Homo sapiens: one gene and its partners. The protein of the gene in region 3 purifies or fractionates together with the protein of the main gene of each other region. This does not show direct contact. Each region holds a gene or a part of one and is shown on either strand. Other genes may lie near its edges.

What was found. Proteins that work in one complex are often made in the same cells at the same time.
Region 1: the proteins of PPIL3 (region 3) and GPALPP1 purify together in Homo sapiens (affinity purification with mass spectrometry; one large-scale study listed by BioGRID and IntAct). This does not show direct contact.
Region 2: the proteins of PPIL3 (region 3) and PLCL2 purify together in Homo sapiens (affinity purification with mass spectrometry; one large-scale study listed by BioGRID and IntAct). This does not show direct contact.
Region 4: the proteins of PPIL3 (region 3) and ODF2 purify together in Homo sapiens (co-immunoprecipitation; one large-scale study listed by IntAct). This does not show direct contact.

Annotation. Positions count from the first base shown.
Region 1 is NC_000013.11:44,995,763-44,999,537, reverse strand, and holds part of GPALPP1 (GPALPP motifs-containing protein 1), read right to left. Parts: intron 1-3,775.
Region 2 is NC_000003.12:17,017,180-17,020,954, forward strand, and holds part of PLCL2 (inactive phospholipase C-like protein 2), read left to right. Parts: intron 1-3,775. UniProt on the Homo sapiens protein: May play an role in the regulation of Ins(1,4,5)P3 around the endoplasmic reticulum.
Region 3 is NC_000002.12:200,878,830-200,882,880, reverse strand, and holds part of PPIL3 (peptidyl-prolyl cis-trans isomerase-like 3), read left to right. Parts: intron 1-445; coding exon 446-539; intron 540-1,392; coding exon 1,393-1,460; intron 1,461-4,051. UniProt on the Homo sapiens protein: PPIases accelerate the folding of proteins. It catalyzes the cis-trans isomerization of proline imidic peptide bonds in oligopeptides. May be involved in pre-mRNA splicing.
Region 4 is NC_000009.12:128,465,731-128,469,505, reverse strand, and holds part of ODF2 (outer dense fiber protein 2), read right to left. Parts: intron 582-3,775; exon of another isoform or gene 324-581; coding exon 153-323; intron 1-152. UniProt on the Homo sapiens protein: Seems to be a major component of sperm tail outer dense fibers (ODF).

The DNA.
Region 1 (3,775 bases), on a different chromosome or scaffold from region 3:
ATAAAAGTAAGGACATGTCTGGCTTCACTTTTTTATAGATATCCTTCTGAACTATGAATAATCTCAAAAAATTATTTTGGGAACATGTAATGAACTATTCCATATCTCTCCTAAAGCAGTGATGCTTGTCGTCATTAAGGAGGCTCTCCTATTGCAATGATAATTTTCCAAATAGATTATAAATTCCATGAGAACAGGAGTTACGCGTTCCTTATATTTCACTTATTTCCCTTTCATATCACACAGAATTGTGATATGCATATAAAAAAATGAACTCAGTATAATACATAAAAATCTCATTACAGATCAGCATTAACAGATGAACATCCACAACTGATTCTGATGACTAGGAATGCTAACTTGAACTCCGATGAAATGAAATGTTACTCCCCCAAAACCAATTCTGTTCTTCTCATTAGTAGACCTGTATTACAAAAAAATTATATGGTATTATGTTTTAGATTGCAACAATAAAATTTTGTGAAGTTTGCTTCCTTCTTGTTGTACACATACTTTTACAATAATCTTGATTTTGCCTACTGACCTACAGTCAAAAGTACAGTTGTCCCTCGGTATTCTCGGGAGATTGGTTCCAGGACCAACTCCCCTGTTTGCAGCTACCAAAATCTGTGGCTATGGCCTTGGTTCCACTTCCCTTGAATATTGTACTTTCAATCTAGAGTTGGTTGAACCTGAAGACTCAGAACCTGCAGATCTACAGGGTCAACTGTATTTACTATCTGGTCCTTTACAAGAAAAGTTTGCTGACCCCATGACATGGTTAAATCATGCAAATATAAAGAAGGGGCACCCAACCCATCTTTTACAGGCAGTAGGTAGTTAACATCAAAGAATGTTTCCTAGAAGCAGTGATGTAGGGGTGGGACCTGAGTTAGCTGGGCAAAGAAGGTGGGGACTGGACGAAGAGTAGTCCAGGCAGAAAGAAAAGCATCTGCAAAAGCCTGAAAGCAAAAGAGTCATCACATTTAGAAAACTGAAAGGTGTTCAGGATGGTTGGAACCAAGAGAGGATAGAGAGGGGCCAAATGTTGCTGTGAGGTCAAGGAAGACTAGGACTGAAAAGGAAGCCTTGAATTGGTGAGGGTCTCAGTGGACTGGTGAGGGCAGAAATGCAATGGGTTAAGGAGAAAATAGAAGACCCAGAGACAGTGAGAAAGAAAAAGATGCAGCTAGAGGGGGATATGAAGTAGAGTTTTCTTCAAAGATGGGAAAGATTTGAATGTTTTGGTTAAATGCTAAGGGCAGGCAGCCCTAAGGACAGGGAAGGGAGTCAGAGTAAAAATGGAAGGATTAGCTTTAGAAGGAAGCAGTATACCTCTTCTATTGTTACCAAAGGGCAGACAAAAAGCTTGGCGTGGATTTAGGATAGTTTTTAGATACAGTAACAGAAAATTGAGGAAGTTCTCTTATGATGGCATCTACTTGTTCAATGAAGTAGACGGAAAAATAAAAGTTTTAGAAAGAAAGGGAAAGTTTTAAAAAGCCAAGGTTGCAGATTGGGGAAGAGAAAGGAGGTGAAGCCTGTGAGGATTACTGGACAGACCTATGGACCCAGTTAGGGAACAGGCCATCTTTTAGCAGCATTAGCTTGTGGAGGCGTGAGGTTTCTTCTAGCAGCATTAGGAAGCCTGGCTGTAGGCTCACAAGGGGTAAACACTTGGACTGATCCAGGGCTGGGCTTTTGTTAGATGGGTTTGGCAGAATACCCAATGGGATAAAGCAGTTGAGAGCACCAGCAAGAGAGTGGATGAATGGGTGGACCATGGAGTCTAACAGGAGTAGGGATGTAAGCACTCCTCTCAGATGGAAGTACTTAGGGATAGAAGTACTTAGGGATGGAAGGCTCAATGAGGTTAAAAAACAAAAATAAAAAGCAAATGAAATGGGAGTAACTTGAGTGAGAACAATGAATGAATAAGGGGTTCTTGCTGAGAATGAGATTTGAATTTGAGTTTTTGGAGCTGGAGTAGGGTAGACTCACTACTCCAGCTTAAAATGTAGGTGAAATTAGTGGAGGTGAAGGTCACTGCAGATAGGAGACTGGAGTTAGAGTCAAAATGGCCAAGGCTCCACTCAGCTTCCATAGAACAGCATATGGAGTCTGTGGATCGCTCTTGAGAAAATATTTGCACCCCAGGGTTTCTAATGACATGACGTTGGGGGACATTTTCCAGCAGTCAATTTTCAGAGTATTCAAATGAAGTTAACTTGTTCCATCTCAGACCTGTGTGCTCCCTCACTCCTCTTTACTCTGGTCATGCTTGTCAGATCTCCTTCTGGGACAGCAGAGTGTGAGGAACACAGGACAGATAACAGACTGGATTCAGGAATCTTCACTTGAAGGTAATCCTGACACCTGCTACCACATGGATGAAACTTAAGGACATTATGCTAAGTGAAATAAGCCAGTCCAAAAAAAAAAAAAAGACAAATACTGTATGATTCCACTCAAATGATGTACTTAAAGTAGTCAAATCATAGAGACAGAAAGTAGAATGGTGCTTGTCAGGAGCTGGAGGGGGGAATGAGGAGTTATTACTTAGTGAGTACAGAGTTTCTGTTTTACAAGATGAAAAGAGATGTGGATATGTTGGTAATAGTTGCTCAATCATCTGAATGTATTTAATGCCACTGAACTGTACATTTAAAGATGGTTAAGATGGTACATTTCATGTTATGTGTATTTTATCACAATTTTTAAAAACTGGAAAAAAAAAAAAAAAAAAAAAAAAAGAGGCTGGGCACAGTGGCTCACGCCTGTAATCCCAGTACTTTGGGAGGCTGAGGCAGATGGATCACTTGAGCCCAGGAGTTCCAGACCAGTCTGGCCAACATGGTGAAACCCCATCTCTACTAAAAATACAAAAATTAGCCAGATGTGAGGGTGCATCCCCGTAATTTCAGCTAGTCAGGAGGCTGAGGCAGGAGAATCACTTGAACCAGGAGGCAGAGGTTGCAGTAAGCTGAGATCATGCCACTGCACTCCAGCCAGGATGACAGTGAGATGCTGTTTAAAAAAAAAAAAAAATCCCGTTCCCAGCCAGCCATTAGGTTTCTTCCAGACTCCATACAAAGGATTATGGTTAGCTGTATTCATGCAGGTCCTGGCTTCTCCAACCCCCATAAATCCTGGGCCCCTCTTAAGGAATTTTTTTTTTTTTTTGCGACAAGGTCTTGTTTTAACACTCAGGCTGGAGTGCGGTGGTGTGATCACAGCTCACTGCAACCTCAAACTCCTGGGCTCAAGCAATCCTCTTGCCTCAGCCCCCCAAGTAGTTGAGACTGCATGTGCATGCTACCATGCCTGGCTAATTTTTAAATTTTTAGTAGAGATGAGGTCTTACTATGTTGCCTAGGCTGTTCTTGAAGTCCTGGGCTCAAGTGATCCTCCCACCTTAGCCTCCCAAAGTGCTGGGATTATAGGCATGAGCCACTGCGCCTGACCAGGAATTTTTACTGTCCTCTACTCCGCCAAAAGGAATCTACTGAGTACCCACTTTGTGCTGGGTACCCTGCTAGTATTGGGGATTACAGAGGCTTAGGACGTGGTTCCTTTCCTCATGGTTTAGTGGGGCAAACCAGCAAACAATCCAGCACAATAACTACAGATAGAGAAAGCCACGTGTGCTCCCATCCCTCACCACAAACACTGTGGTCTTGGCACCAGCAGGACCAGCAGCAGCAGCAGCAGCTGGGAGCTTGTCAGAAATGCAGAATCTCAGGCCTCACCCAGATCACCTGAATCAGAGTTGGCA
Region 2 (3,775 bases), on a different chromosome or scaffold from region 3:
ACTCTTATTTGCGTCTAACTGTATCATTATGTTGTTATAGATTTGGCAAGACAGAATATGCTAGCTTGCTTAAAATTTTTAAATTATAAAATTACTCTTTTATAATGTATAATTGAAATAGCTGTGCAGCCTTATACTGCCTAATTTATCGATATGTTCTGTTAATTCCATCTGATAAAATAAGCTAATAAAATATTTAAAATTAAATTTAAATTATGGCTGCAGCAATATTATAACTCTTGTAATATTTTGCAGTTCTTTTTAGTGACTTAATGGTTTCTTACCTTGTGACAATTTATTAAAGCTAGCCAGAATAGATTAAATATTGATGGGAAATGTACTAAAGGTCTCGGACAGCCCGTAACTCTAAATATAGCTCTTTATTTTTGTAATGTTATGTTGAGCTTGCCCCAAAATTAACCTTAGAAATAAGATCTTATTTCATTCTGTTGACTTCCCATGTATAATGTATGGAGGCGAATGAGAAGTAAAGGCAAGTTGAGAAACTCCTCCAGAACTCCTGTGTCATGGCCAGTCTACATGCCTAAAGTGTGTCTTCCTGTGAGGACAGTGCCATGGTACCTCCTAAAATGTACAGATGTGTATTTATGCTATCAAGATTGTGATTACTTTTCAATATCTAGACTGTATTAATAAAATAGTATTTCAGAAGTGTGCTAGTTTCTTTGTGAAAACGGAGAATGCAGATCGTTGTCCTAATGGCTGCCGTGATTACTACCAACAAACAGGCCTTGAAAACTGCCAGAATTGTGCTTTTACAGGACTTGTGGTGCTCTCGTGGCTCCTGTGGTGGGGTGAGCCTGGGACCTAGCTCAAGAAGACAGGTATCAGAGCCATTCAGGAGTGGAGAAGAAGAGAAATTCACACACCTCCTTAGACTAGGCAGATTAAGGGAGTTTTAGTAGGAACTGGACTGGGATGGAAAGTGGGAATGACCCTATTAGCAGTGCTGGAGTCAGAGACATGAGTGTGGGATAGAAGGCACCTGCTGAACTTGTGCCTGGAGGCCTGGGGCACACAGATGACCCTTCTTCCTCCCAATGGTGAGCAAGGGCCCTAGAGTCCTCTCCTGCTAGAACCTAGAGCACAAAAGCTGCACATAGCAACCCTAGGTAGGGAAATTGTAGCAGGGCTGGAAGGGGGCCTCATGCAAATGGAGGCTTACAGGGCATTTAAATGAGGCGTCTTTGTCCCCTTAAGCTCAGTGTCCTTAAGTACTTCATCCCATGATTTTGGGGCTCAACCTGTGAGGGCTCATCTTCCTCCAGTCAGCTTGTCCTCTCTGCCTCTCTTAATGGAAGTGACCCTTGAGTCCCTTTTTTCATACCTATCTACTTTTTTTCAACAGATGGGGCCTGGGCTCCATTATTAAGCCATGTGGTTGGGCTTTTGCCCACAACCCCTTATTTATTGCATTGGACAGCATACATGATTATATCATACATCATGACCATAAAGTCAGAGGGTCAAACTTTTGAACCAAATAATTGATTTGCTTTAAAGATGTCACGTTTGGTTGTTTTGAAGTGGCATATAATAGAAATTTAATTGGTTTATTTCAATAAAACAGATACAAAATAAGTTACTGTATTTTTGGTGATGAATTCAACACCCATTTATAAGCTCTTAGCACGTGCACTGCTCACTCATCAACAGCAAGTATTTATTGAGTGCCTACTGTGTACCAGTGACTATTGTAGGCAACATGAGGTAATATAAAGATGAAAAAGACTTTTTTTTTCCTTTGAGGAGCTTATAATTTAGTTGAAGAGATGCTGCAGTATGTTTATAGATAACTGATAAGATGATAGACAATAGATAGTAAATAGATATTTTAAAATATATAAATGAATTATTTGAATCTTCAAAGGAGAGAATGGTTAGTTTCAGGTTCAGAGATTAGGAAGACTTCAGTGAAACATCGGCCTTGAACTAGACCTGTAAGAATGAGTTGGAATTCAACTGGTAAAGAGGAGGCTATTGCAAGATGAGTTCGTAGGGTGAAACATGCTCACAGGTGAAATATGCTCAAGCACATATTCTGGGAAATCCAGGCTTGGACTGTAACAAATAGTAGGGAGTCCTTGCACATTTTTGAGCAAAGGGCTATGCTCAGAATTAGGCATTATGGACTCTGGGAGGCTTGGAGTGAAATAGAACTCAGAGACCACCTATTGAGCACCTTTATTTTGCACGTGAGAAAATGGAAACCCTGTAGCACAACAAATTAATGGCAGAACCGGGGTTGGCACCCAAGTGGTATCTCTGTCCAATTTTTTTCTGCAATCCAGATCAGAAAAATTAACTGTATAGAATGTGTAGATGAATGATCAATGTAGCAATAAAGCCCAAGTAACTGTAATAATAATAATATACAGTTATTCATGTGGGGCTCTTGAAGTCACAGGCACCTTATTTTTTGTTCTTGTGCCCCATAAAGATAGAAAATTCTTCATTTTGCATTTTCACATATATTAAAAGGCAGATTTAATGCACTTAAAATAAAGAAAACTGTAATCAGTAGATCAAATCCCACTCAAAGAAATGCAATCATAAATGTCTGAACACATTGTTTATAATTTCAGAAAACAAAAGTTTATTTTACTTAAAATATATATAAATGAGCTTGAATACACCCACTATTGACAATCAAGATCAAGATTGAGCTTGTTCGCTCATGTAATTAAGGGCTGGTAAGAGAAAATAAGGAATATGTAACCTGAGTTTAAGAGATTCTAGGGAATATCTGGATACTCTTCATAGTACACAGTGTTTTTAAGAATGGATTTGCACTGGCATTTCGGTGCATCTCCTCTCCCCCATCAATGTAAGTGATCTAATTCATCATCTTTTTAAACTGAAGTGACTTTTACTATTCTTTTTATGTTGAGAGTGATAATTCCATTCTCTAGCTATCTTTATTAGATGCAGATTTACCACCTGTTTTAAACTTGAATGTTTAAAATTGTTATGAGACCTGTACTAACATATAGAGACCAAGGAGTCAACATTCTTCCTCTATAGAGAGAAAACATTGAAAATTTAAATATTTTGTGACGTATTACATAAAAAGTAAGTTCTTTTCTAAAGTTTTTTGTTAATTTTGCTGCAGTTTTTCTGTCATGGACTATGCTTTAGTCATTGTAATTAAATTGAAGTTGTAGAGAGGAAAAAGGAGAGAAGAGGAAAAAAATAAAGAAAATGAAGCCCATCTCTCTCTTACAGGCAGTACGGTGGTTCACATACACAGCAAATGGGCAGCCCCACCTGTTCAGAGATTATACGTGAATTCATTCTTGTCATTGCAGTTCCATTCTCTGTACTTTCCCTTTGAAATTAATTTTTTCAGTCATTTTTTTTTGCAACTTCACAAAAGTCTTGATTTTAATTGCCTTCAGGTTTAATTAAGAAAGCATACTCTGAGGAATCCATTTCCCCAGTAGAAAATAGTACTTTTTAAAGGGAAGAACAAGATGCTTTGTCTGGGAGGATATTATTTGCTCTCTCTGAGTGTTTTTATTTAAGTTGCTGAGTAGTCTCTTCTAACACATGACTTTAAATATTTCTTAAATAAAACAAGGTTATTTAAATAAAATATGTGAAATGAAGGTTTTTTTCCTTACACAGAAATGTTGGCAGTTGACATGCAGCATCATGAACATTCTGGGTTAAGTTGTTGGTATGGTGTCATATACTTTTTCTTGTTACTTCTTAATTCAGTGAAGAGATAAATCACACTTCATAATTAATGGAG
Region 3 (4,051 bases):
TCGCCCGGGCTGGAGTGCAGTGGTGCGATCTCGGCTCACTGCAACCTCCGCCTCCCAAGTTCACGCCATTCTCCTCCCTCAGCCTCCAGAGTAGTTGGAGGCGCCTGCCACCACACCCAGCTAATTTTTTGTATTTTTAGTAGAGATGGGGTTTCACCATAGCCAGGATGGTCTCGATCTTCTGACCTCGTGATCCACCCACCTCGGCCTCCCAAAGTGCTGGGATTACCGGCGTTAGCCACCATGCCCGGCGAAAGATTTTGTATTTTATTTCAAGAGGAGAAGGAAGCTATTGAAGTGTTGTAGGCAGGGAAATGACATCCAAAGTAATGACAACAGTCATAGTTTAAATATGCTGCTATCACGTTTTCAGTAAATATGATTGGTTTTTTGTCTTAACTGGGTTTCTGCTGCATCATTTCTCAATCATTTTTACTCCCTTCAGAATTTCTTGGCTCTTTGTGCCAGTAATTACTACAATGGCTGTATATTTCATAGGAATATCAAGGGTTTCATGGTTCAAACAGGAGATCCAACAGGTAAGTTATTCCATTAACCAAGATCTAAGGAACTGAATGTATAGTATGAAGAAGTGGGTAAAAGAAGAGGAATTAAATACGTGGAGTTTTTGTTTTGTTTTGTTTTGTTTAATAAGTTCTGTTCTACAAGTACAGAACATGCAGGTTTGTTACATAGGTATATGTGTGCCATGGTGGTTTGCTGCACCTATCAGCCTGTCCTCTAGGTTTTAAGCCCAGCATGCATTAGCTATTCGTCCTAATGCTCTCCCTCCCCTTGCCCCCACCCACAACTAGCCCTGCTGTGTGTTGTTCCCCTCCTTGTGTCCATGTGATCTCATTGTTCAACTCCCACTTATGAGTGAGAATATGCGGTGTTTGGTTTTCTGTTCCTGTGTTAGTTTGCTGAGAATGATGGCTTCCAGCCATCCATGTCCCTGCAAAGGACATGATCTCATCCTTTTTATGGCTGCATAGTATTACATGGTGCAATTTTAAAGCAGAAATTATTAGCACCTACCCCTAAAATGTGAACAATATTGTGCTCACTTTGGCAGCACATATACTAAAATTTGAACAATACAGAGAAGATTAGTGTGGCCCCTGCACAAGGATGAGACACAAATTTGTGAAGCTTTTCATACTTAAATATATATGAACAATATTTATAAGGAGGGTTATTCTTTTTTGTTTTTTGTAGGTCTGTTTTAATCTTCAGGTCTGTGAAGTTAAATTTGGGGAATTAGGAAAGGCCATATCAAATTTTATCTATATTTAAGCAGTCAAACTATAAAGTATTCCTTAAGTTTTGGGAAATGAACTTGTTTTCAATTTAATTAAATACTTCTTTTGATTTGCTTCACTTGTAATGTAGGAACTGGAAGAGGAGGCAACAGTATTTGGGGCAAGAAGTTTGAGGATGAATACAGTGAATATCTTAAGGTAAATCCTCAATGCTTTAAAAATCTATTTCTCATGCCTTGGTTATGCATGGAAACTTTGATACATGTGTCATAGTGATACAAGTTAACATCATTGCAAAATGAACATACTTTTTTATAGTTTTTGTACATTTGACAAATGATGTCGGGGAGACTTGAGAAATGGTGATCCTAGCCTGACATGTGTACTGGAATCCCACCACCACGTGGCTCTTGATAGTAAGTGAGTTCATCTTTGAATCTAACCTGAAATGTTTAACTAGTAGTGTACCAAAGAGACTTAATATCTCACCATAAAATTCATGTTGAATGACATGAAACAGTGGCCTTTTTTGAGAGTGGGGAGGAAAGACTATCAAACTTCCTGGTTGCAATGTTGCCCATTATCAGTACCCAGCTTTTATCATCTTCTGTTAGATGTTTGAACATCCCTGTATTAATATGACTTAATACCTATGGTAGATCACAACTAGGTTAAAGAGTAGTACATATAAATAGTCTTTAACATGGTAAAATTAGGGATTTTTAATTTTCTTTGTTATATTTTTCTGTGTTTTTCAAACCTCTGTGGAGTCATTTTTTTTTTTTGTCTAAAATTAAAAATTAGTGCATGCCTAGTTTTAAAAATCAATCCCACTTCCCAGAGATAACTTCAGTTGATGACTTATTATGTGGTCTTTCAAACTTTGTATCTCCATAGAATGATAACTTTATGATTAGAAAAAGAGCAATGAAGTATCCTCAACCAGGGCCGGGTACAGTAATCCCAGCACTTTGAGAAGCCCAGTAAGGAGGATTGCTTGAGGCCAAGAGTTTGAAACCAGCCTGGGCAACATAGTGAGACCCCCATCTCCACAAAAAAATACAAATATTAGCCTGTTATAGTGGCGTGTGCCTGTAGTCCCAGCTACTCAAGAGGCTGAAGTGGGAGGATTGCTTGAGCCCAGGAGATCAAGGCTGCAGTGAGCCAAGATCATGCACAGAACGAGACCCCACTCAAAAAAAAAAAAAAGTCTACTCAATCAAAATATGCAGTTTAAGTGTATTATTATATTTCCATTACATTAAAATGTACCCACAAAAATTCTGAAAAAAATTCATTGCAGTGTTTATCTCTGGATGATGAGACTAGGAGTAATTTCTTTTCTTTTTGCTTTTTTTAAAACCTTTTTTTAGAGACAGGGTCTTGTTCTGTCCCCTGGGCTGGAGTGCAGTGATGCATTCTTGGCTCACTGCAGACTAAATTTTCTGGGCTCAGGTGATCCTCCCACCTCAGCCTCCAGAGTAGCTGGGACTACAGGTGCATGTCACCATGCCTGGCTAATGTTTGTATTTTTTGTACAGATGGTGTCTCACTATGTTGCCCAAGCTGGTTCATTTTACTTTTCTATTGTAAGGAAATGTATTAGTTTTGTTACAGGAGTTGAGGCTGGGAGGTGATAAACTTTTTGAAAAGTCAACTTTTTCCTGAATGAATAACTAAACAATTTTTTAGGTATTAATTATTACATTAATGACTGCTTCCATATACCAGCTGAAAACCAGAGACTGGCTATGACAGAATCACCTGTGGAACTTTGTTGTTTGTTTTTGAGACTGGGTCTCACTCTGTTGCCTAAGCTGAGTGCAGTGGCCTGATCACGGTTCACTGCAGCCTTGACCTGAGCTCAAGCAGTTTCTCCTGCCTCAGCCTCTCAAGTGGCTGGACCACAGGAGTGCACCACCGTGCCCAGCTAATTTCTGATTTTTTGTAGAGACGAGGTCTTGCTCTGTTGCCCAGTCTGGTCTGAAACTCCTGGACTAAGATGATCCTCCTGTCTTGGCCTCCCAAAGTGTTGGGATTATAGGAGTGAGCCACTGCACTTGGCTGGAAGTTTTAAAACTATAACAGATCATGGCCTTGCCCTCCTAAAAATAAAGTCAGTAGGGCTGGTTAGGACTTAGACTATATTTTAAGGTTCCTAGATGATTCTTTTGCAGGCAGAGTTAAGAACCATTATATAGGCCGGGCGCGGTGGCTCACACCTGTAATCCCAGCACTTTGGGAGGCCGAGGCGGGCGGATCACGAGGGCAGGAGATCAAGACCATGCTGGCTAACACAGTGAAACCCCGTCTCTGCCAAAAAATACAAAAAATTAGCCAGGTGTGGTGGTGGGTGCCTGTAGTCCCAGCTACTTGGGAGGCTGAGGCAGGAGAATGGCCTGAACCCGGGAGGCAGTGCTTGCAGTGAGCCGAGATCGTGCTGCTGCACTCCAGTCTGGGCGACAGAGCGAGACTCCGTCTAAAAAAAAAAAAGAACCATTATATTATACACCTTATACACCAAGATTGTGGATATGTATTGACTCTTCATATATTCTGGCCCAGGAATTCCATTCCCAAATGTTTACTCAAGAGAAACTTGTAAGTTTGCACCAAGAGACATGTACAGGAGTGTTCTGATGTACTGTTTGTAATAGCAAAAGTCTAGAAACAACCCAAATGTCCACTGATTGTAGATGAATCACTATGTAGATTGTGGATAAATTGTAGTATATTCAGTAGTGAAATATCACATAGTAGTAAAAAAATAGTAATAAACTATGGCTATA
Region 4 (3,775 bases), on a different chromosome or scaffold from region 3:
CCTCCCGGGGCAGGCAACTGAAGCCCGGGGCAACCCTGCAGAGGAGGCCTGAAGGCCTGCAGACGCAGGCTGAGGGACCAGGCAGGAAATCCACCTGGGTGCTCCTGCACATCCTCAGGGTAGTAGCTATCCCAGCCCCCTACCTCCCTCACCTCAGACTTCAGACAACCAACCGCATTCATTAGACTATCAATCTTCTTATCATAACGGTTCATTTTACAGTGACCTGAGTCATCATCTTCTGTAGAGAGGTCACTTAACCGCATCACTGAGACCAGCTTTTCTGAAGATGGTGGCGTGATCTCCAGGCAATGAGGTGGATTCTGATGTAGAGGAGGGAGAAACACATGAACTCAGAAGGCAGAACCTTGACCACGAGTTCCACCACTGGAGGCTTATTTACTGATTAGACGGGAAAAGCTGTAACAGCTAACTCGGGGACCCCAGGAAGAACATACTCTGAACCCTTGTGATGGAACATTACCTATCCATGTTTAAATGATGGTTTTGGAGAATTCCCAACATCAAAATTAAAAGCTTGGGCTACAATGTTAAGTTTAAAATAAAGAACATAGGCTGGATACCCTGTAAAACCAGTATATTGGGAGGCCGAGGCGGGAAGCCAAAACCAGCCTCAGCAACATAGCGAGACCTTGTCTCTATAAAAGTAAAAGAATTAGCTAGCGCTGGGCATGGTGGCTCACATCTGCAATCCCAGCGCTTTGGGAGGCTGAGGCGGGTGGATGACCAGAGGTCAGGAGTTTGAGACCAGCCTGACCAACACGGTGAAACCCCGTCTCTACTAAAAACACAAACTTAGCTGGACATGGTGGTGCATGCCTGTAATCTCAGCTATTCAGGAGGCTAAGGCTGGAGGATCGCTTGAACCCGGGAGGTAGAGGTTGCAGTGAGCCAAGATTGCGCCATTGCACTCCAGCCTGGGCAACAGAACGAAACTCCTTCTAAAAAAAAAAATCAGGTGGGTGTAGTGGCACATGCCTGTGATCTCAACTAATCAGGAGGCTGAGGCAGGGGATTCCTTGAGTCCAGGAGTTCAAGGCTGCAGTGAGCTATGATAGCACCACTGCATGCCAGCCTGGGTGACAGAGCGAAACCCTGTCTCTAAAAATAACAATACTCATAAAGAAATAATATAACAAATCAGCAAAAACATTAATAATACCCAAAGTTGGCAAAAGTTTAGGGCAGTACATTTTTTTATACCTAGGGTAGAAATGAAATATGTCAAAAGTCTTTTAAATGAATATGAATAGCTGATAGTGGATTAGTTACAAAGGTAGATGAATCTGCTGAAAAGGTATTGTAGAAACAAGTGGGTAAATTGGAAAAAGGACCAGATATTGTATGATATTAAGAAATGCTCTTAGGAGTAATCAGTTATTTTGATGATGTAGAAAAATATTATAAATGCACATGGTACAATACCTGGAAAGTATTGTATTAAAAAAATACAATACTTTTTAAATACGTCAGTATAAAAAATATTTTAGGGCCAGGAGCGGTGGCTCATGCCTGTAATCCCAGCACTTTGGGAGGCCAAGGCGGGCGGATCACGAGGTCAGGAGATCGAGACACTGAAACCCCGTGTCTACTAAAAATACAAAAAAATTAGCCGGGCGTGGTAGCAGGTGCCTGTAGTCTCAGCTTTTTAAATATTTTTTTAAATATTTTAAAATGCATATATGCTTCAGGAAACTTTATGCAAAGCTGTAAACACTTTGCTTTTTTTTTTTTTTTTTTGAGACAGGGTCTCACTCCATCGCCTAGGCTGGAGTGCAGTAGTGCCATCTCGGCTCACTGCAACCTCCGCCTCCCAGGTTCAAGCAATTCTCCTGCCTCAGCCTCCCGACTAGCTGGGATAACAGGCACCTACCACCATGCCCAGCTGATTTTTGTATTTTTAGTAGAGGTGGGGTTTCACCATGTTGGCCAGGCTGGTCTCGAACTCCTGACCTCAGGTGATAAGCCCGTCTTGGCCTCCCAAAGTGCTGGGATTTCAGGTATGAGCCACCACATCCAGGTATGTATATTACTTTTAGAAGAAAAGAAGTTACTTTTAATACTTAAAATGACAAAAATAGGAAAATGTATAAACAGTCATGTGCCACGTAACATTTCAGTCAGCAATGGACTGCATATATGACAGTGGTCCCAAAACACCGTATTTTTACCGTACCTTTTCTATATTTACTATGTTTCAATATGCAAATACTTACCATTGTGTTAGTTGCCTACAGTATTCTGTACGGCATCATGCTGTAGAGGTCTGTAGCCTAGGAGCAATAGGCTATACCATACAGCCCAGGTGTGTAGCAGGCTTTACCAATCTCGGTTTGTGTAAGTACACTCCATGATGTTTGCACAATGATGAAAGTGCCTAACAACATGTTTCTCAGAATATATCCCCATTGTTAATTGATATATGACTATATATATATATATATATATATATATATATATATATATATATTTTTTTTTTTTTTTTTTTTTTTTTTTTTTTTTTTAATTGAGATGGAGTCTCGCTCTGTCACCCAGGCTGGAGTGCAGTGGTGCAATCTCGGCTCACTGCAAGCTCCGCCTCCCAGGTTCACGCCATTCTCCTGCCTCAGCCTCCCGAGTAGCTGAGACTACAGGTGCCCGCCACCATGCCCGGCTAATTTTTTGTACTTTTAGTAGAGACGGAGTTTCACTGTGTTAGCCAGGATGGTCTCGATCTCCTGACCTTGTGATCCGCCCGCCTCGGCCTCCCAAAGTGTTGGGATTACAGGCGTGAGCCACCACGCCCGGCCACATGACTATATATTTTTTAAAATGACAAATATATATATATATATATATATGGGAAAGTGTGACTACTTACTCCTTGTGATGGGGAGGGAGTGACATAGACAAAAGCCAGGGGCAGCTTCTAGGATGCTGGGTGATCGTTACACAGGTACCTTCAGCTTGTGAAAATTCATGGAGCAATACACTTCTGATGGGTGTACATCCCTGCACTTTTCCATTTTTTTTTTTTTTGAGATGGGGTCTCACTCTGTCAAGCAGCCTGGAGTGCAGTAGCACAACTTTGGTTCACTGCAACCTCTGCCTCCCAGGCTCAACCCATCCTTACACCTCAGCCTCCCAAGTAGCTGGGACCACAAGTGCACACCACCACACTGGGCTAATTTTTTGTATTTTTGGTAGAGATACGGTTTCGTCACATTGTCCAAGCTGGTCTCCAACTCCTGAGCTCAGGTGAACCGCCTGCCTTAGCCTCCCAAAGTGCTGGGATTACAGGCGTGAGACACCAGGCCCGGCCAGTCCTCTTTTCGTTTTTCTTTTCCGTTTTTTTTGTTTTTTTTTTGAGATGGAGACTCGCTTTGTTGCCCAGGCTGCAGTGCAGGGGCGCGATCTTGGCTCCCTGCAACCTCCGCCTCATGGGCTTAAGCAATTCTCTTGCCTCAGCCTTCTGTGTAGCTGATATTGGTGGCGCGACCACCACGCCAGGGTAATTTTTGTATTTTTAGTAGAGACGGGGTTTCGCCATGTTGGCTAGGCTGGTCTCAAACTCCTGATCTCAGTTGATTTGCCTGCCTCGGCCTCCCAAAGTGCTGGGATTACAGGAGTGAGCCATTGCTCCTGGGCCTGTACTTTTCAACAAGAAATTTTGAAACTTAATAGCAGCCAGAATTGAGTAGCTGATTATTTTTCTGTATTTTCAAATTTCCCTAAATAAAAATAGATCACTTTTTTTTTTTTTTTTGAGACGGAG